Regions from separate parts of the Homo sapiens genome. Here all the other regions are linked to region 2. Evidence: fine-mapped expression QTL. A gene starts in region 2. Each other region holds a variant in brackets. All regions are shown on one strand. Distances are between the middles of the regions.

Region 1 (5,128 bases), 140 kb before region 2:
TGAAGCTAGAATCTTCCCTGGTTTTGGCCTGAAACCATATTGGAAACCTTCATCAACCACATCCTGTAATACCAAGGACCAGATGACAGCTCCACCATGAAGCACAAAGAAAAAAGGAAAATGTCTATTTAAGAAATTATCATCTTATCCATCTTTCCTCTGGTCATTTACATGAAATTCACATCATTTTCTTCCAGTTATTGGCTATGGGTACCCAAGGGTATGTTTTTTCCTTCTGTTTCCAGCTCACAGAACAAACGGTGCTATCACAGATTCACAAGAACAAGCTCACACACACCAATACAAAATAACGCTAATGCTCAAATGAAGAGGTCCTCTCCAGACAATTCATTATAATATTTGTTTTGTTTAAGAAGTCATTTTGGAAAAATACAACACCCATGATAATATGGAGGGATCCGGTAAGTAGTTAAGGCACTGGAATCGGCACGGGCTGTGGCCTCCCGCGCAGGCTGCGGTAAGGCTATGGCACTGAGCGAGCAGCCACGCTCCTGCTTGTCTCTCTCTCTCTCTCTCTCTCTCTCTCTCTCTCTCTCTCTCACTCCTCAACAGCCAAAGGGCACTGAGGAAACCCCATGAAGTATAGACGCTTTGCTCTGCTGGCTTTTGTCTGTGCTGAGGGGGACTGAGGCTGTCACTCCATCCCCACGAGCTGGGAGGCGCCATCAGCTGTGGCCAGGATTGGGTGGGCAGGCCTCTTGCTGCGCGGCTCCAGCAGGTCCTGCCCCAGGGCCGCCGGGCTCTCTGGGTTAAGGTCACCCTGGCCAGGCTCAGACGGCCACCCTGCCGTGACCTTCTCCTCCCTGTGGCTGCAGTCCTTGGTGGCACTGGCCAAGCCCTCCTTCCGGCTCCGGGTGACAGCCATGTGGTTGCTGGCATTGGGAGCCAGCTCAGCCTCGTTCTCTGAGACGGCGTTGTTGCCGCTGTGGGTGGACTCATTCTCGCTGTCCTCCTCACCCCGCTCTTCCTTGTCGCTGTCCTTCCCGTGGTGTTTGGCATGCCTGGCTTTCTGGTGGATCCGCTGGTGGCGAACCAGGCTGTGCTTCAAGGTGAAGGTTCGCTCGCAGGTCTGACATTTGTATGGCCTTTCCCCTGGAACAATGGAAGAAAGAATTTCCATTAACCAAAAGGCACCAGTACCCACTGCACCCTGCTCTGCACAGGAAGAATGAGGCTCCCAGGCTATGTGCGGGGGGCCAGGACTCCGTCCTACTCAGCCAGAGGCCTCTTCCTTGAACCAGCAAACTGAGGACGGACAAGCTCTGTTTGCTGGTTCAAGCTGTCAGTCTGAGACCTTTCCTCTCCTTCCTCTCTCAGCCCAGGCACTCTACATACTGATCCAGAAAACCCAGGTCCCAGAAGCAGAAGCCTCAGGAGATGTGCAGACTGGCCTCGACCAGAGACTGGGAAGGAATCTAGAGGGGGACAGGAGTGGACCCTCTCAGGGATCTGTATGGACAGCAGCACCTAGGTCGGGGGCACCAGTTACCCTCTGCATTGCGATGTGGTGCAGCGGGGGCTTTCCTGATGGCTCACACGCCAGGCCCAGGGCAGGGCCCACCACGCTTGTTGGGAGCCCAAGAATATCCCTCTTCTGAGAGCCAAGGACCCTGGCCCTTCACACGGGCAAGCGCAGGGCAGAGCCGACTGCGCTGGGTCGGGGCACATGTGTTCACTGCGGGCTGCAGCTGTGACAGGGAGGGAAGCTGCGGCTGAGAGGAGGGACAGGTTATTTTGGAAAGAAGAAGGATATATCTCTGGACTCCATGAGCATATTCAGGTCTTTGTGTCAAAGTAAGCGCCCCTGCTCTGGGGTCTGCAGCCTCCACCCTGCAGGTGGTGGGTGAACTCTAGAACGGTGTGAAGGGCAGTGGCTAAGGGTCCTGTCCCAGTCATCTCAGCCGAACTGCACGGCTAAGAAAGGAAAAGGCCCTCCTGACCCTAATGGATCACCCAGGGTGCCTGCCCCACAGCGGCCTGGGGCAGTGCCTGTCGTCCAGGCCACAGGACTAGACAGGACTAAGTGGCCCAAATGCCCAGCACAAGCACCCTCTCCTAGATACCTCTATGAAACAGGGCAGCTGTTACCCCCACTCTACAGATGGGGAGGCGGAGGCAGCAGAGCTAAAGGCGGATCACAGCGTTCTCAAAAACACAACGGCCAAGGACCCTCTCCTGCCTGGCTGCAGGAGGCCTGCACCGTCTTCAAGGGCTGAGAGTACAACTCCTTAAAACTCCTAGTTCACGGGCTTAAAGGGCACACCGGCAACGTAAGCAAACGTTCTCTCGGTGGCCTCCAGCGCCGCTTCAGGGGAGCTCCTAGGAGAGGTGCCCGGCTCGCCTCCTCTTGTTGGGCCGGGGACCTGGCCTGCCCTGGTTACCTGTGTGGGAGCGCATGTGCCGGGTCAGGTCCTGCAGCGACCAGAACCGCTTGTTGCACACGCTGCAGACCTTCTTCCTCTTGTCTGCCTTGCTGGCCACGCTTTTGGGGGAGTCTGTCTTTGGTTTCTTGTCATCGTCGCTCTTCTCTGAGGACCTTTTCTCGGCCGCGCTCTCCCCGTCGGAGGGGCCCTCCGTCTCCTCCGCG[A/G]GCTTTTCCGCCGGGGCCTCCCCGGCACCCGGGGCCGACTCCACCACCTCTGCCGGGGTCTCGGGGGGCTTCTCCTCCTGTTCAGGGGCGGGCTGGGGCCCCTCCTCTGCAGTGCTGGCGCCATCTCCCTTCTCGTCCTTGGGCTCCTGGCGGCCGTGCGCCTTCCGGTGGCGGCTCAGGGTGCCCAGGAACTTGAAGCTCTTCCCACAGGTGTCGCAGGCGAGCTTCTGCTCCTGCGAGGCCGCGCCCCCGGCGCCTGCCTCGCCGTCGCCCTCCGCCAGCTTGAAGTCCATGAGCTTGGTGGCGAAGTCCAGGTCCAGGCTCTGGTTGCTCGACGCGTCCTCTTCCGCGCCGTCGGCGTCCCCAGTGCTCTCCTCAGTGCCATGCTCCTCCTCCGGCTCATGGCTCTCCCCACGCCCGTGCTCTTCCCGGTGCACCGGCGAGGCCGTTTCCGCCGTGGCCTGCTCCACAGGCGCATCCCCTGCGACCTGGCGGAGCTCAGTGGCGCCCTCCGACGGCTGCTCTCTGTCCCGTGAGGTGAGGTCTAGCACTTCGCCCGCGGCGGCTGCAGTCTCCGCATCCGACTGACTGTCTGTGGGGCAAGCACAGCGGGGAGGGCTCAGAGGGGCACCACCAGGTACGCCCATGCCAGGGATGTCGCCGGGAATGGGCTAGACCCACGCCAGCAGCCTGAACCCCAAACCAGTGAGGACTTCTTTCGGCCCAAATCCTCACCACCTGTTACATCCCCCAGGAGGACCAAGATGACCCTGGGGACGTGAAGAAAGGCAAAAGCAGCCTCCACATCACCTCAGGTGTGTTCCCAGGGCTGGCTGTGCCCCTGAACCCCTGGCTTCCACTGCCCCCGCCCCCAGGAAGGTGTGAGTGACTCAGGCAGGGCAGACAGGGGCTGCGAGATAGGAGAGGGGTGCATTCCAGAGACTCGCAGCGCTAGGGAAGTTGAGGAAGCTTGAGTTATAAGTTATTTTTCCAGTGCAAAGAGATCATACAAACATGCAACATACACAGGACCACCCCTACCCCTAATCCTCCAAAGCATGGTCTTGATGAGTTTCACAGGAAACGACCCCAAGCCTGCGTTGTGTGTGTATGGTATGCACACTCTTGCCTGACGCTCATCTCCAGGTGGAGGCTGCAGAGACCCAAGGGGGCGCAGGCAAGCTTGTAGGCTTCCTAGCTGTCAGCCTCCCAGGGGTGGTGGAATCTTTCAAAGGAAGGGCACCCTTGATGCCAGGCTTGGCAACAGCACACAGTGAGGGGAGCGGACTGTGAAGGGCTGTGGGTGCCTGTGAAGACAAGGGGTTCTGGGTTCCAGGCATCTCACCTACCCTGACTTCCTGCCTCTTGATTTGTTCCTATCTGTCCATTCCACCCAGTAAAACTGTATGTGGAAAGCCTATCAGTTTTCAACAGTCCTTTTAAGGGATGGCACGGCTGCAATATTCACATCAAACAGTGTCAAAAGGCCTTCTCTTTACTAAGGTTGAAAGAAGACTTAATAACTTCTTAAAATTATGCATTACGACAGTACATTGGAAGCTGGTGGGACCTATTATTTAGCTGCAGATCCTATGTCTGATTTAGTTTTTATTATTTTTTCAAGACGGAGTTTCGCCTTGTCGCCCAGGCTGGAGTGCAATGGTGTGATCTCCACTCACTGCAACCTCCACCTCCCGGGTTCAAGCAATTCTCCTGCCTCAGCCTCCCAAGAGCTGGGATTACAGGCGCCCACCACCACGCCCAGCTGATTTTTGTATTTTTAGTAGAGATGGGGTTTCATCATGTTCGCCAGGCTGGTCTCGAACTCCTGACCTCAGGCGATCTACCCACCTCAGCCTCCCAAAGTGCTGGGATTACAGGCGTGAGCCACCGTGCCCGGCCACTGTCTGATTTATTACTGCAGGGATTCAAGTTCCTCTGATAATTGGGTGGATGAAAGTCATTGTTTTATGGCACAAGTACGAGATGCCCCTCCCTCAATAGGCCAGATGTGATTGCAGTCCTTGAGCCAGCAGATTCACGCACCTAACCTGGATTCTCACTTGACGTGATCAGGTGTAACTACAATGTCAACCTGCATCCATCACACCTCCTCAATGTCACATGCTTGATGATTTGCCATCAAGGCGGTCAGGAGGGCTGGGGTAAGGAGCTGGTTCTGCCCCGTCCTGAGGTCTGAGGAGACAGTACCTACTGTTCACACCTGCTTGGGGCTTTAGGCTTTACCCACAGCCATCTGCATAACGCGGCTACTTACATCATTTCATTTCATTAGTTTTACACTGACTGCACTTTTTGGCAGCCACTGTTTGGGTATCTCAAGAGGTTTCAGAAAGAAATATTATGGTGTGAATATAACATTTTAAAGAAGAAATGATTTTGCAAAATTATCCAAAAGCTTAAAGAATATGAGTCCTGGGATATGCACACCAATGTCTGGGCCACATTCCAAGGAAAAACTAGATGTTCGTTTTTCTTGAATCATTTCAACAGAGAGCA
Region 2 (5,145 bases):
TCCAGCAAATCCTCTTTAAAAACAAGACATTCTAAAATGCAACCAGTTTAGCAGTATTTTTAAGACAAAGACAATGCAAGTTCATTAACCTAAAATGGAGCACAAGCTAAGCAAATAACTAAATCAAAGAGTTCTTCTCTCCTTTTCTTTTGTAAAAATGGGGGAAAGGTATTTTTTTAACACATTTAAAACTTGATTAAAGCCATTCAAATGTTTAATTCATCAGTGTAACCAAAGCTCAAAGCACATCAAAGCAGGACCCATCAGCGGGTACCCAGAAGGCTCCCTCCAAAGGGCGGAGGTAAACACATACACACACACACACACACCACCCCTAAAATTAGTGATTCTGTCTTTGTATAAATTACTTGTAGAGTAGCTCGAACCCATTCCTTCAGAAGTTCTGTGGACTCTTGAAGATAGCACAAAACTCAACGTTTGTTTTTCAAAGAGGTTTTAGCCAACACTTTGGCCTCTATCTAACTCAGACTTCCGGGTTGAAATATGTCTTAGAAACTATACCTGCCTACTTGAAAAAGCACCAAATCTAGAGGATGATTTTCATGGGTGTGAAAAAACAAAACTAAACCACATTCTTTTCTTGGCAGTTCTCTTTTCCCCACCTTCCACTTCAATTAAACTTATTTCAGAATCAACTCGCACACATGCAGGGTCCACTACATATATAAAGGGGAAAAAAAATATCAAAAATAATGGAGATGCACTAGCAACTCTGCCTTTGCAGAAATCATTTCTTCTTAAGACAGAAATTCCTCGCTATTTCCAGCAACACCATTCAACAGGCAAACTTTATTTCCACTGGCTTTTAAAGAGCTAAGCTTAAATCTAAACTCTAAGAGGGTTCAATTTTCTACTAATGAAAACCCCCGGACAGGTTTTTCAACATACCAAAACGTTATATTTTTTTATTCACCCTTTTGTCTCTCTCCACATCCACCACCATCACAAGCAGCAGCAGCAGGAGCATCCTCAAACGAAGAAAACCCCTCCAAAGTGCCCCGAATGTGTGCTGCTGCTGGCTCTGAAGCCGTGTAGAATTTCGTAATGGAATGTGAACTGCTCGTCCGGATCTGGGCTCACGTTCTATCTCCTAACCAGTAAGGAGCGAGGGAGGGCAAATCTGCTGAGCAAGGAGAAATACTTTCCTCCTCTTTTATAACCCATCACGGATGCACGGCGGCCGAGGGGCGCGAGCTGCACGCGGCGCCTGTCAAGCGGCCCGGGCCCGCACCCCGTGGGGTCCCCGCGTCCCCCAGCTCCCCGCCCCGCCCGGAGAGAAAGGTGGCCTCGCCCATCGGTGGGCTCGGCCGACGCGCCCCGCACTCACGCGCGGCCGCGGAGCAGGTCACATCCTCGACGCGCCCTTGGCCCGGTCCAGAAAACACGCCGCTTCCCAGGGAGGGGGTCGGCGACGGGAAGGACCTCCCCTGCTCCTTAGCAACCATTAAGGTCGCAGTTTCCTAAGAGACCGCGAGCGGGGAGGGGGCGCGGGGGGCCCGGCCCAAGGCTTGTGCGGGAAGTTGGGGGCGGGGGGGGCAGCAACAGGCCCCCTCCCCCCACCCAGCTAGACGCCGGGGGCCGGGATGGGAGGAGGAAGGGAAGCCCCAGAACTCGTGAAAAACTGGTCCAGCGGGCGGCGGACAAAAGTTTCCGAGCGCGCTCCACAGCTGGGCGGCGGAGCGGGCCCCGGCGGCCGGCCCCGCCTCGGATGCTCCCGGCCTCCTTCCTGTGCTCGTGACGGCGCCGAGCCCCCCACCCCCCCCGCCCGCGAGGCAGGCTAGCTCCACACCGAGGGCTCCCACGAAAACACTCACCCCGCCAACGGAAGGGCGAGGGAACAATACGTGCCCGCACGGCTAGGGCCCGGTCCCCTCCTCCCCAGGCCCCCCGGGGCGGTGGTCGGCGTGACCACGACCGCCAGCCGGGAACCCGCGAGGGCGCGGGGCTGCCCGCGGCCCCCTCCCGGCCGGCGCCGTCCGCCCGGGAGGTTCAAAGTCCGCAGAGCAGGGCGCGGCGGATGCTCCCACCGAGCAGCCCCGAGCAGGCACCCCCGCGCGAGCACCCCGGGCAGGCACCCCCGGATACCTTAGGGCGGCGGCGGGAGGGCGGGCGCCGTCATCTCCGCGCTTCCCGGCCCGAGAAGGACTCGAAAGTATGTAGGAGAAAAGTTTCCCCTCCCACATGGGGGGGAGGATGTCGAGGGAGAGAGGGCGGAAGATGGAGAGCAGCGCTGGGAAGATGTTTCTGGCCGGCGGTGCGCGCACCATCCGAGTCCCGGCGGTGCTGGTTAAAAATAAACTCGGCGGCGCGGGTCGGGCCGGATTCCTGCGCTCGGACGGCTAATATGGATGCGCATCAGGTCCTGCTGGCGGGGCGCTGCGGCGGCTCGCGCTGGGAGCTGGTTGGCAGAGCCGGCGGCTCGGGAAAGGGAAAAGAGCGGAGGAAGGGGAGGAGGAGGAGGAGGAGGAGGAATGGCCCGGCGCGCAGCCCGAGGGGAGAGGGCTGCCCCGCTCATCCCTGGCCGCCCCGCCGGCCCGAGCGCACGCTGCGCGGAGTGGGGCGTGCGGGTCCCCGGCTCCGGGACACACCGAGTTTCAAAAGTACAACGCGCTCTGCAGACTTCACCCTCCCCATCCCCAAAGTTCTTTAAAAGGTCGCTCCGGCTGTGCCCCAGACTTCTCGCTGCCGCCGGCGTACCGCGAGTCGGAATCCGGGGCACGTACTTACGGCCGGGCAGGACGCTTGGCTCCCTGGCATGATGCGTTGGGGACCGGTGGGCTTCAGGGAGAGACCGAGGAGAGATGCAAACTTGTTCCGGAAAAGGAATCAAAATGGCGTTTCTGGATGTGCAAAGTTCATCAACTCCGCAGTCACTTCCCCTCCTCCTCTTCTCCCACAGGGAGGGAGGTGGGCGAGGAGCTGGCGACCCCGGCGCCCCAGCCGTCGTCCCGGCCCCCGTCTCGGCCCCCCGCCCAGCTTCCTCGCCCGCACGCTCGGAGTCTCGCTCTCCCCCTCTCACCCTGATAAGTAGACACATCACGTGTTGCTCCTGCGAGTCTCCTGGGGACGTGTTACTGAGCGGCCGCGGCGGCGGCGGCGGCGGCGGCGGCGGCGCTCGGACTGGGGGGGGTGAGGGGGAGGACCGCCGCCCCCGCCCCGACTTTAGCAGGGTGACCGCAGTTGCCATCCCGGGATGGATGGAGGTGGAGTCCCCTCCCCACCCCCCACCGCAGCCCCAGGTTTGCCCTACGCCCTCCCAAGGCGCCCCGGGCCATGGGAGGGCCGGGCTGCCCGAGGGGAAGGGTCCGGGAGGCCGCGACTGGCTGCGATCCCAATCGTCCCGTTGCTCGCGGGCCACCTTATTCGGCCACCGCGCCCCCTCCCCTGCAGCCCCTCGCCGCGGGCGACTCCCCGCCCCCGGCTTTCCATCACTTCACTCCGCAGTTTCACTATTTTAACGGAGGCGGGGGAGACACGGTGATGCCTCGGAATTGCGAGAGGGGCACCTCAGAGGCGCTGGAGTTGGGGGGATGGGGGGCGTAGGGCTCGGGGCCCTGGCCTGACGCCGCCCCTCTGGGTCTCCGAGGCATCTGCGAGGGGGAGCCCCGCCCGCGCCGTTTCCTTTCCACGCGGTCCTCGCTCTGCATCCAGGTGGGGCGAGTGGATGATGGGGCAGGAGATTAAGGAGCAGGCGCTTCACCCCGCCCCTAGCTTCGAGCCGTTTCTCTCCCGGGGCCATCCTTCTTACTCGGGCTGCCGCCCTGAGTGTGCTCGCCGTCTAACAAACTCAACTCCGACCCGACTTTGGTCCCCCTCCCTTACCCACACCCCACAAAGGATGCTTCAGCGGGGAACTGCCGTGGCCGCCAGGGGCTGAGGACGGTTCCTGCCGCCACTGTGTCCCCACCCCGCGATGGAATGGCTGATGCTGTGTCATCCACGTCGCCCTCCAAGGCTTCAGAGAAGCCACACGCAGTATCTCTTTCTCTCAGAGGGCTCCTGTTTCAACTCTGAAAAGCAGGGGCCCTTCTCCGAGCCGCTCTCCATCTCTCCAGCTCCTGCCACCACGCTTCGCACTGGCTGCCTTGCCCCAAGTTATCACGGAGCCCAGAGAAACCAGGCCTGGGCTGTGCTTCCTCCATAAAGCAGCTGACATGTTTCCAACTGTTAATACTTCTCCTACCGAGGTTCTGAAAGGGGTCTGTTCTCAGCCTTTGGAAACATCTTCAGAAAGATAAGGATGATTGTGGTTGTTGAAAATAAACACGCCCCCCCCCCCCCGCCCCCGTAGTTCTAAAGAAGAATGTCCAAAGAATACTACAGTAGAATTAAGCGTTTGAGTCTGGTTAGGCAAGATGATGTTATGCAGGCAGAAAGCTGGCTACTTTCTATTTACTATGACCTTTGACCCTGGCTCCACCACACCAGCTCCTCTGAGAAGGCTTGAACACCATGGAGAGTTGTAAGCCCAACTGTGGGCCTTTAATTTGAGCCCTTCCATTGACCTCTAGTTTTCAGGGCTGCAGACAGAAGTGTCTGTCTCGGGATGGGTCCTGGCCAGAATAGAACTCTTTAGAACCAAGGAAAAGCAGCTGGACCCTTAGGTCTGATATGAGATAAGTAGGCTAAACCACTGCCCAAGAAGGAGCTGATTCAGCTGGCTGTTTCTCTGACTTTCAGTCATCAAAATTAAGTTTTCGGAACCTGTTATGTTTCCCAGGGTCTACTGTTTACTGAAGAAAACTCCATCCAGAGAAATTTTAGCGGTTGCATTTTTCTGAGCCTCCCCCAACCCCGCCGCCCCCAAATGTATTATCAAATGCTTTTTTGAAGACAGGCCAGTCGTGGAGGAGATGGGCAGGTCTCTAGACAGGAATAATAGTTCACATTGCCATCATAGAATAGGTGTCTTGTGTTTCTAAGTTGTAATGTGTTCCAATGAGGGCAGAGGAAGGGCCCTGTGGGGAATGCTACTTTATTTACTCACTTTGTCTCTGATTCAGGAGCTAGCCTTTCCTGGTCTCCCCATTCAGGGATAAGTTTTGAATAGGAAAAATATCAAAATTGGAATTTTATGCATAATTTAGCAAATCTCCAATGCTATATGAATTTTCATGACAAATT
Region 3 (5,145 bases), 150 kb before region 2:
TTGCCCATCGTCTCAGCCCAATGGCCTGTCTTCACCCTCACCTTCAGGGAACTGGGCTCCCTCTTTTTAGGCAACACTGTTCTCGCCCACTTCCTTTTCAAGCGTCTCACCCTCTGTCCTCTGACGCTTCTTCCCCAGCGTGTCTGTCTCTTTCCTAGGTCCCTAGGTCCTAGGTCTACCCCGGCCACCTTTCCTGATCTCATTCACTCCTACGGCTCCTCCCACAATAACCCCAACCTGGCTGTAGCTCTTACCCGACCCCTGGGCTCCAGACATCTCCACCTGGATGTCTGCAGTGGACCCACAAGTCTTTCTTCTCCTCCTGGAGGCAGCCCCCACATTCTCTTCTTGGGATCCTCCCCTTTTCTGTGCAGGAGGGGTGGGGATATTTGACTTGCCCACTGCTTCAAGAATGACGTGTGACCCAGAGGTGGGCACATGCCTCAGACCAGCCTGAAGTTCTGGTCTCTTGTTAGGATGAGCTGCTGTAGTCCCCAAGCTGGCTGCGCATAAGCTGAGCGACACTGCTGCCTGGCAGGTGCTCTCCCTGAGGAAGAAAGCAGAACCAGGAGATGGGACATGGTGGGCTCGAACATGAGCTTTGGTGGACGTGCATCTAACTAAAGTCACTTTCTGGACTTTTTGTCAATGTGGGCTAACCCATTCTCATTTTTGTAGAGGCTGATCTGAGTTATTTATTTATTTATTTATAGTAGAGATGGGGGTCTTACTTTGTTGCCCAGGGTAGTCTCGAACTCCTGGACTCAAGTCCTGCCTCTGTCTCTGCCTCCCAAAGTGTTGGGATTATAGGCATAAGTCAATGCACCCAGCCTCTGAGTTGAATTTTTGTCACTTGAAGACCTCTGATAGACACCTCCAACAAGAAGGAACCCATGATCTCTGTGTTCCATCAAACTGACTTCTCCACCTGGCTTCCCCGGCATCCTTCATGGCACCACCTCCCCCAATTTCCGGTGACAATGTTGAAAGCTTGAGTGCGCCCCCATTGCAATCTTCGTTAATCAAGTACTGCCAAATGCGATCTCTCCAGTGCTCCTCTCCTCCCCAGCCCACTTCAAACCCTCATTACCTTTTCTCTCTCTCCCCAACTCCTTTTTTTTTTTTTCTTTGAAAGGGCCTTGCTACATTGTCCAGGTTGGTCTCGAACTCCTGAGGTCAAGTGATCCTCCTGCCTCAGCCTCCCAAGTAGCTGGGATTACAGGTGCACACCACCACATCTGGCCCTCGTTACCTTCTGCCTAGACTGTTTGATGATTTCTCTGCTGGCTCCCCGTCTCACACTGTTGCTAGGACGTTTCTAGACCACAGTTCCGGTGCATTCACGGATGCCCTCAAGAACCTTCAACGGCTCCCACCTCCAGCAGGAAATGAACTCAAGTGTTCAGAGCTCTCCTGACTCCCTGACTCGCTCATGCGTCTATTCACGGTCTGCTGTGCGGCGTGTCAGCCAGTGGCCTGCCTCCCCTTCCAGCCGTAGCCCACACCACTCTGATGTGATGGGACACCCCGTGGCCAGCTTCCCTGTGCCCTGAGCTTCTTCCTGGCCCCGGGCCGGCGACGCTCCTCCACCCTGCTGCAACCTGCAGAAATCCTTCCAGGGGCCTCGTTCTATAAATTCTGTCTACATGTCCCCAAGCAGCAGTGCCCCCCACCTCCAAATGCCCTTGATGCTCTGGGCTTGCCACTCCATTTAACAGTGTCCTTCTCGGCTGTTTTCTCCGAAGCGGCTGGAGGGCAGAGTCTGTGTCTCATTTGCCTGAGATTTCCTCCCCTGCTGAGCTCAGGGCCTGCAAATATTTGCTGGGTAGACATGGATGGACAGCCTGACCAGGACGCCTCCTGCTCCCAGCACTGCCCCTCCCCGTCTGGGGTCCTCCTTCCGAGTCATCTGGATACGCCAGCAAGCCTAGATTCTCATCTGCCTGCCGGACTCCCCGGACTTTTTCAGAGATCATTGCAAAGCTCACCGCCATAAAGCCAATCTGCAAACACTTTTCTTGCTTCTTTTTTTAACCTCAATTAAACACACTAAAATACATAAATGAGTAAATAAATAAATAACAGGACAACTTGGTGTGGTGTAATTCAGGTTTGGTAAACAATGATGGTGTTCTCTTCTTACTCGCACCCCCTCCTCTGCCACCTCTCTCACGCTCTCCTGCTCTCTCCTGCCACCCTCCAGGTGCCCTCTCTGACCCCACCTCCCCTCCTGCCCTCACTCACAGTCAGGAAGGCTTCCCATTTCCTCCCGACTTCCCCAGTGGGACCCAAGTCCTTGGGAGTCAGGACAGAAGGTGACTTGGGTGGAGGCAGTGAGCTAGGAAAGAAAGGCAGCAGGTATGATCTGGGCCATTCGGAGGGCAGGGCAGGGGCAAGGAGGCTTGGCTGGCTGGGTGGTGCTCTGGGGCCCATCCACCCTGAACTGGGAGGAAGGGTGTTGCCCCCATCCAGTGAGCATGGGTGGCAGGGGCACTGAGCTGCAGAGGCCACCACCCCAGAGCCGCCAGAGCCACTCTTGACCAAGCACTGAGGACCAGCCTTGGCACAGGCCCTGGGTGGAGAAGTCCCAAGGACACCAAACCCACCGTTAGTGCTGGCTTGACTGAGCCTCCCTAGTGCTGATACCAGATAACAAGTGCAACTGTGTCCAGATCCGAGGGCAGCCGTGGGCGTGAGATTC[A/G]TGGGAGGGCAGGGCCGCCAAAAACAGGAGTGGCTGGTTCAAAACACTGAACGGGGTCAGGGGCCATTGGTTAGGCCTTGGTATGGAAACAGAATTCTAGGTGGGGACAGACGGGGGCCCCACAGACAGGAGCGTGGAGCAGTGCCATGGGGTCAGCAGGGAGACCCGACAGGACCAAGGAGCTGAGGGAGGTGGGCAGGGTCAGCAGCAGGGCCGGCTTCCTGCAGTGGGACCCCTGCGAGGGCCTGTGCTTGGAGTTCAATGCTCCCAGGGCCCCATCTTGAAACTCTTTACGATACTATCTTTGAACTGAGATTCGTCAGTGAACTCTGATGGGACAATGGAGTGTGCACTGGCTGCCGGGAGCCCTGGCTCCTATGTGGTCCTGCCTCCCTCTCTCTCCTGCCTCCCTGGGACGGGCTCTTGGCCACTCAACCCCCTGCCCTTGCCTAGTGATTGCGGCCCCCTTGGCTCCTGGTGGAGGCCTGGGTGTGGAGGCAGAGAGGGTCGGGTGGATGTGAGATCTCAGGCACCTGTGGACACCTGCATGTAAGTATCCCAATGTCTAAGGTAATGTGGCCTTGGAGAGCCCATTGGCCGGGCACAGTGGCTCACGCTGTAATCCCAACACTTGGAAGGCCGCGGTGGGAGGATTGCTTGAGCCCAGGAATTTGAGACCAGCCTGGGCAACATGGCGAAACCCCATCCTACAAAACATACAAAAAAATTAGCCGGGTGTGGTGGTGTGCACCTTGGTCCTAGCTACTCGAGAAGCTGAGGCAGGAGGATCACTTGAGCCTGAGAGATTGAGGCTGCAGTGAGCTCAGATTGCGTCGCTACACTCCACCCTGGGCGACAGAGTGAGACCGTGTCTCTTAAAAAACAAAAAACAAAACAAAACAAAAACAAACACAAGATGGGCACAGTGGCTCATGTCTGTAATCTCAGCACTTTGGGAGACCAAGAGGGCAGATCACTTGAGGCAGCCAGAAGTTCGAGACCAGCCTGGGCAACATGGTAAAACCTTGTCTCTACTAAAAATACAAAAAAAATTAGCCAATTGTGGTGGCATATGCCTACAGTCCCAGCTACTCAGGAGGCTGAAGCACGAGAACTGCTTGAACCCAGGAGGTGGAGTTTGCAGTGAGCTGAGATTGTGCCATTGCACTCCAGCCCAGGCGACAGAGTGGGGCCCCACATTTTCATTTATCCATATGGATCCCAGCATTATGAGCCAGCCCTGACAAGTGCGTATCAGGAGACCAGGGACCCAAAGCTTCAGGGAGGTAAGCCAGGTGGAGGCAACTGCTCCTAGACTCAGTGCCAAGGTCGAGCCCAGCCACAGGTTCTTAGAAGTTCCCTTTTGGGGGGTAGGTGGTAAAGTTGGGTGGGAGCACCTGTGCCAATGTATGTAGAGGAGTGGCTGCAAAAGCAGGGAAAGAGGCCAGGCAGGAGGCTTGAAGGAAGTTTCCAGTACATATCCTAGATATCAGAGAGTTACCCCAGACCAAACAATGGCTCCATTGCAAACAATTTGCCTTGGTGTTAGCTTGAGGGGCAACTAGAGGTACAACTGAGGGGCAGGAATCTGGAACAGTCTTTAACAGAGCCCTGGTTTGCAAACTTTTCTGGGCTTTAGCAAATTCTCTAGGAATTTGCTAAAAATGTATATGGCTGGGTCCTCCCTCCTGAGATCCTGAATTAGTAGATCTGAAATGCAATTTTTTTTTTTTTTTTGAGACAGAGTCTCACTCTTGTCACCCAGGCTGGAATGCAGTGGCGTGATCTTGGCTCATGGTAACATCTGCCTCCCATGTTCAAGTGATTCTCCCGCCTCAGCCTCCCGAGTAGCTAGGATTACAGACACCTGCCACCATGCCAGCCTAATTTTTGTATTTTTAGTAGAGATGGAGTTTCACCATGTTGGCCAGGCTGGTCTTGAACTCCTGACCTCAGGTGATCTGCCCACCTTGGCCTCCCAAAGTTCTGGGATTACAGGTGTGAGCCACTGCACCCGGCCTGAAATGCAATTTTTAACAAGCAACCCAAAGAATGGTTCTTTTAGTGGGTAGGTGAGTGGGTGGGTTGTACACACAGAGGCACCTGATATGAGCGAGAAAAAATGGTCTTGGAGGCTCTGCCCTAGCTGATGCCTCATGGAGGACAGATGAGCCATCCCTGCAGAGCCCTGCCCAACCCACCGAATCCTGACCCAAAGTTTTGGTGTTCTTCGTCATGCAGCAAAAGAGAACTGGAACAGTTGGGAATTTACTCAGTGACCCTGGGAATATGTATGCCAAATATCTATGTGCCAAATCACAACAGTGCCATGTTTCCTAGAGGCCACGCATTCCTAGTTTTCAGTAACTCCCTTTTCAGTGGACGACACACACCACCCATTCTTGGGGACTTCTGTTTTAGGATTTTTCTGGTGGAGAATTTCA
Region 4 (5,145 bases), 51 kb before region 2:
AGAGCATGGATGGTTATCAAGTAGGATTTAGAGGAGTTTTGTTTTAAAGCAAACCTACAAATAAATATCTATAACCAAAATGCAGCAGATGGGGAAAAACAGCTGGTTTTGAGAAAGATAGGAAAGGAGGGCATGGGGGATCCCAGGCACAGGAAGATGAAACACAGTGAAACATAACACAAACACAGGCAACCATACTAATATACATGTTAATTGTCAAACTGAACTCTATGAACAGTTGTACCTCTTTCTCTTCTGTGTCAAGTCTAACCATCCTAAGAACATCTGCAGTCTTTAATTTGTTTGCCTCCTGGGGTTTTTAAACCCTAAAGCAGGAATAAAGGTGATCTGGGATGGTTTTACCTGCAGGCTTGGGAGGGGAGTTAGTGGATCTCAAAGTAACTTACTTTGCCTAGTGTTGACTAGAGTTTCAGTTCATAGAGGGAAATAATCCATGAAACCAACAATAGAGGGACGTGTCATAAGCAGGCTGACCTCTCCCAGGTGAGTCATCCCCACCCTGCCCCATCTACCCTAAACCTGCTTGAACCTGGTCCCACCTCAAACATAAAGGTCAATGTGGGCTGGACACTGTGCCTCACACCTGTAATCCCAGCACTTTGCAAGGCCGAGGCGAGAGGATCGGTTTGGCCCTAGAGTTCGAGATCAGCCTGGGCAACATGGCGAAACTCTATCTAGACAAAAAACACAAAAAGTTACCCAGATGTGGGCCGGGTGCAGTGGCTCACGCCTGTAATCCCAGCACTTTGGAAGGCTGAGGCGGGTGGATCACGAGGTCAGGAGATGGAGACCATCCTGGCCAACAAAGTGAAACTCCATCTCTACTAAAATACAAAAATTAGCTGGGCATGGTGGCGCGTGCCTGTAATCCCAGCTACTCAGGAGGCTGAGGCAGGAGAATTGCTTGAACCAGGGAGTCGGAGGTTGCAGTGAGCTGAGATTGCACCACAGTACTTCAGCCTGGTGACAGAATGAGACTCCGTCTCAAAAAGAAAAAAAAAAGAAAAAAAAAAAGTTATCCAGGTGTGGTGTTGTGCGCCTGTAATCCCAGCTACTCAGGAAGCTGAACCGGGAGGATTGTTTGAGCTCAGGAGGTCAAGGCTGCAGTGAGCGGTGATCACACCACTGCATTCCAGCCTGGGTGACAAACTGAGACCCTGTCTCAAAAAAAAGTCAATGTGTGAAAACATGGGAAAATGTTTATAAAGTTAGGTCAAGTTTAAAAAGCTAGCTGGCACATTTAAGATTCTATGCTATACTTATGGATAAAGTCTAGAAAAGGCAATCTGAAACAACGTATGTATCATGAGAATACAGTGCTTTTTTAAGTATAATTTGATGTCACTATTTTTTTTTAAAAAAACTTAACATAATTTTTGAAAATATACCAGAAAGACCCAACTATTCGTGACGCCAGGAGTTTGAGACCAGCTTGGGCAATATAGCAAGACCCCTGTGTCTAAAAATTTTTTTTAATTTGCTGGGCTTGGTAGTGAGCTATAATTGTACCACTGAACTCAAGTAGCCTGGGTGGCAGAGGGAAAACCTGTCTCATTTAAAAAAAAAAAATGCAAAAAAGAAAGTGATCAAATTTCAGTCCTTAATTGCACCCTGCCCTCCCTCCCCCAATTTATGTATCTTTAGTCTGTAGCTCAGTGCCTGGCACACAGTAGGCATTGTTTCTCTCAATCTATAACAGGTACTGCAAGCCAACTATGGGCCAGCTGAGCTGAACAGATGACATGCTTAGGTTGATAAGCCTTGTTCTGTAGACAAGTGCAAGAGTCATACCCTTGAAACCACATGTAAAATGCAGACAGTATTCAGCTTTAGGAAAATAGTCCATAAATTTGATCAGCCTTTCAAAAGAATCTATGATTTCCAGGAAAGGACAGAACTACGGCAGTGGTCTGACCCTCAGCAGATTTAATCCTACTTTTGGAGAGTTAAGGAGACTGGCAGGCTTTTTCCTTACTTACTACTGCCATCAGTTTCAGGCAGGCCACCAACAATAAGTAAAAACACTGGCAACACCAAATCCTCTAACCTTCCCTTTTCTTGTAAAGATGAGATGAGATAAACCATCTCATCAGCGTTTTGATATTTCACTCAAAACATTATTGACACAAGGCAATAACCCAGTGAACATTCGTTAAATCAATTCCTAAAGCAATCCGCCCAGTGCCTGTAATAAACAGTTATAATTTTAAAACAGAACTCATCCTCTGGAAAGGAACGAGAGGGGAGACATCCTTGTGAGCCCCATCTATGCGGCTGTCCCGTTATTCCAGGAATGATGTTGGGATTCGAGTTAGTTTCTGAATGATGACTATCAGGTTAAAACTTTCTCAGTGTGACTGTGAACACATCTAGGCCATCAAAGATGCTGGGGAGGTTTTCTGTAAAGAAGTCCTCCTGTGGGTGTAAACATGGCCCACAACCTATCAATTCCTAGGAACCTCAAAGGGGTCACAGAATAGAGGGTGGTCTTACGGAGAATGTTTGTTTTGCAATAAGTAAGAGGTACAGGGGCCTTAGTGATCCTTTTAAATTTAAGTCAACAATCATTAAATCTGAGTCCCCCTATGCACTGAACATTTCTGCTTACTTAAATTGCAGTGCATAAATCGGCTATAAAAGGAGGGATTATATCAACTATAAAATTCAAAAGTCACAACCAGGGGAGTGGGAAAAGTGACTGTGATTTAAAGGTGTTTGGAGGGTAGGGGTGAGCTGGCTCAGTCCTTCTTTTATCCTGTGTCCTTTGAAGATGAAAACTAATCAGTTTTTTCCTGGCCTTTAAGCTATCAAGGTTTAAAAAAAAAA[G/AG]AGTCTGAAAAAAATAAACAAATGGGACCCACAATCTACCTTCAAATGATTTGGGGGTGAAATACTCTACTTTAGGCCCTCAAATATTTCTTGATGATAAAAATGTATGTCAGCTACTTCAATTAGTAACTCCTGATCCACTACTAGGTTGGGGTGGGGAACTCCATAAGCTTACCACTTGGTAAGAGGTAAAAGAAAGCTTGGGAAGGTAAGAGAATTAAGTGCTGTCTATACAATTCTAATTTTAGGTCTAGAAAAAGCAGAGATTAGTGGACTGGGGTAGTGTAAGAGGAAGGGTATGGAGGTGGAGGCTGGAGGGAGCTGATACCCAGGAAGTACCACAAGAAGCCCAGGAGCCAGGTCCTGCTGAAGGGCAGGGGCCTCATTACAGAGGGTGTGTGTGGAGTGGGCAAATTACAGGAGGTGGGAGAGTTGGGGTTGGGTCTGGGGCAGTAGGGGGTGTAGGCTGAGAAAAGTGATGTAAGAGTTTTAAGAAAACCTGTTTGAACATGGTATGGGATTGCAGGGGAGGGAGACCTGCCTACAAACGGGAACAAAGGGAATAGGGAGGGAAAGTTAAACCTGAACAACTTTCAAAGGGGAGGCAGGTGGGGTAGACAATGGAAAGGGCAGAAAGGAAGAGAGTCGCTCTGGCCACAGGCAAGTGTCCTGGGGCACTAAATGGTGCTTGGGAAGAAGTTTTAGATTGTTAGGGGGGTTAGGCTACATTCTTTTGCAGAGATTCTTGAATGTGAAGAAATGGAAAGGGATCCAGAAGGTCTTGGTCCTGTGGGATTCATACCCTGAAGAATGCACGTGGGATGAATCCCTCCACAGAGAAGTCAGGCATGAGCCGGCTGATGATATTCAGGGCTAAGCAGGGTCACTGATGAGAACATGAAAACACCCCTGGTAGGGCACAGGCACAGCAACAGGGGCTGGCAAGGATGAGGTCCCCAGGAGGCAGGAATCCAGACAAATGTGAAGGCATTAGCAGCGAGTGGTAGAGCCCTCTTCTGGAGTCAGGAGGGATGAAAGAGCAAAGAGGAACAGTGGAGAGGGAGCACAAGAGAACTCGTAAGTTGGATTTTTTTTTTTTCCCAAAGAGACAGACAGAGTCTTGCTCTGTCACCCAGGTTGGAGTATGGCTCACTGCAGCCCTGACTTTCCAGGATCAAGCAACCCTCCGACCTCAGCTTCTCAAATGCTGGGACCACAGGTGCGCACCACCACACCATGCTAACTTTATTTTTTTTTTGGAGAGACGGAGTCTCACTATGTTGCCCAGGCTGGTCTCGAACTCCTGGGCTCGAGCAATCCACCTGCTTCAGCCTCTCAAAGTGCTGGGATTACAGGCATGAACCACTGTGCCTGGCCCATGGTCACACAGGGTACATGTGCACACAGTAGGCACTCAATTTTTTTTTTTTTTGAGATGGAGTCTTACTCTGTTGCCCAGGCTGGAGTGCAGCTGCACGATCTTGGCTCACTACAACCTCCACCTCCCGGGTTCAAGCAATTCTTGTGCCTCAGCCTCCTAAGTGGCTGGGACTACAGGCACGCCCCACCACACCTGGCTAAGTTTTTGTATTTTTGGTAGAGACAGGGTTTCACCATGTTGCCTAGGCTGGTCTCCAACTTCCTGAACTCAAGCCATCTGCCTGCCTCTGCATCCCAAAGTGCTGGGATTTCAGACGTGAGCCACCGCGCCCAGCCAAATATTTTACTAATTAATTAGTCATCTCCAAAAAATGGGCAGTCGGGTCTTATACTATGAGTAAGAAGAAGAGAAAAGAAGAGCTGATGGATTACGGAGCAAAGGACCCCAGGGAGCTGGGGCAAGGCAGCCCAGCGGCAGTCAGACAGACAAAGTCCTCCCCAACAGCCAGGGACGACGAAGCTGAACAGAGGGGCAGCTCTTGGTCAGCTTTGGCATTTAAGACCATGTGATCTCAAGGTGCTCTTGAACAAGAATGGGTACACAGGAGCAGCCAAGTGGCACTCTGGAACCCTCTCCTCCTACTCAGGGTACGTACACAGCATCCTGTTTCCTACGCTGGATGGCTGGCTAAGGAGAAGGAAGGAAAACTAAGATTGTCTTATTTCAAAGGGCTGCAACTATATTCCAGCTGTTACAGGCAAGCCTGTTATGTTTCTTCCAACGGATGCCCAATTCACACACATAGCTGCTCTCCTCAAGAATAAACAAGTGGATTCTATATACAAATACCAAGGGCACCAGGTCTCCAAAAGGAGAAAAAATTTGTTTTACAAATGTCCAACCCAAAATGGCTTTCA

Direction of the effects. Positions count from the first base shown, and alleles are read on the strand shown. Sizes are in standard deviations (SD) of each study's normalised expression. Not every link is listed here.
With allele G in place of A in region 3, the expression in monocytes of the gene that starts at base 2,848 in region 2 is higher (moderate effect, 0.48 SD a copy in Kim-Hellmuth 2017).

What was found. PIP is the estimated chance that this variant, and not a neighbour inherited with it, causes the effect. A credible set is the group of variants that fine-mapping cannot tell apart.
Region 1: its variant is the best candidate, but not a certain one, in a credible set for the expression of RREB1 in blood mononuclear cells (TOPMed, PIP 0.51).
Region 3: its variant is the best candidate, but not a certain one, in a credible set for the expression of RREB1 in monocytes (Kim-Hellmuth 2017, PIP 0.58).
Region 4: its variant is the best candidate, but not a certain one, in a credible set for the expression of RREB1 in whole blood (INTERVAL, PIP 0.55).

Annotation. Positions count from the first base shown.
Region 1 is chr6:7,244,496-7,249,623 of GRCh38, reverse strand. It overlaps RREB1 (ras responsive element binding protein 1), which reads right to left. Exons shown (of 13, transcript NM_001003699.4): 12 at 2,403-3,200; 13 at 1-1,113. The coding sequence ends at 656. Among named protein-coding and RNA genes, the nearest start is that of SSR1, 66 kb to the left of the region's middle. The variant A/G (reference allele first, on the strand shown) is at 2,609.
Region 2 is chr6:7,105,664-7,110,808 of GRCh38, reverse strand. It overlaps RREB1 (ras responsive element binding protein 1), which reads right to left and starts at 2,848. Exons shown (of 13, transcript NM_001003699.4): 1 at 2,749-2,848. RefSeq lists silencers at 1,480-1,569, 1,590-2,079, 2,870-3,089, 3,150-3,629 and an enhancer at 3,980-4,039.
Region 3 is chr6:7,255,847-7,260,991 of GRCh38, reverse strand. No RefSeq gene overlaps it. Among named protein-coding and RNA genes, the nearest start is that of SSR1, 55 kb to the left of the region's middle. RefSeq lists an enhancer at 2,111-2,610. The variant A/G (reference allele first, on the strand shown) is at 2,702.
Region 4 is chr6:7,156,568-7,161,712 of GRCh38, reverse strand. The region is part of intron 1 of RREB1 (ras responsive element binding protein 1); the gene reads right to left. Among named protein-coding and RNA genes, the nearest start is that of RREB1, 51 kb to the right of the region's middle. RefSeq lists enhancers at 343-637, 256-1,217, 4,600-5,145. The variant G/AG (reference allele first, on the strand shown) is at 2,848.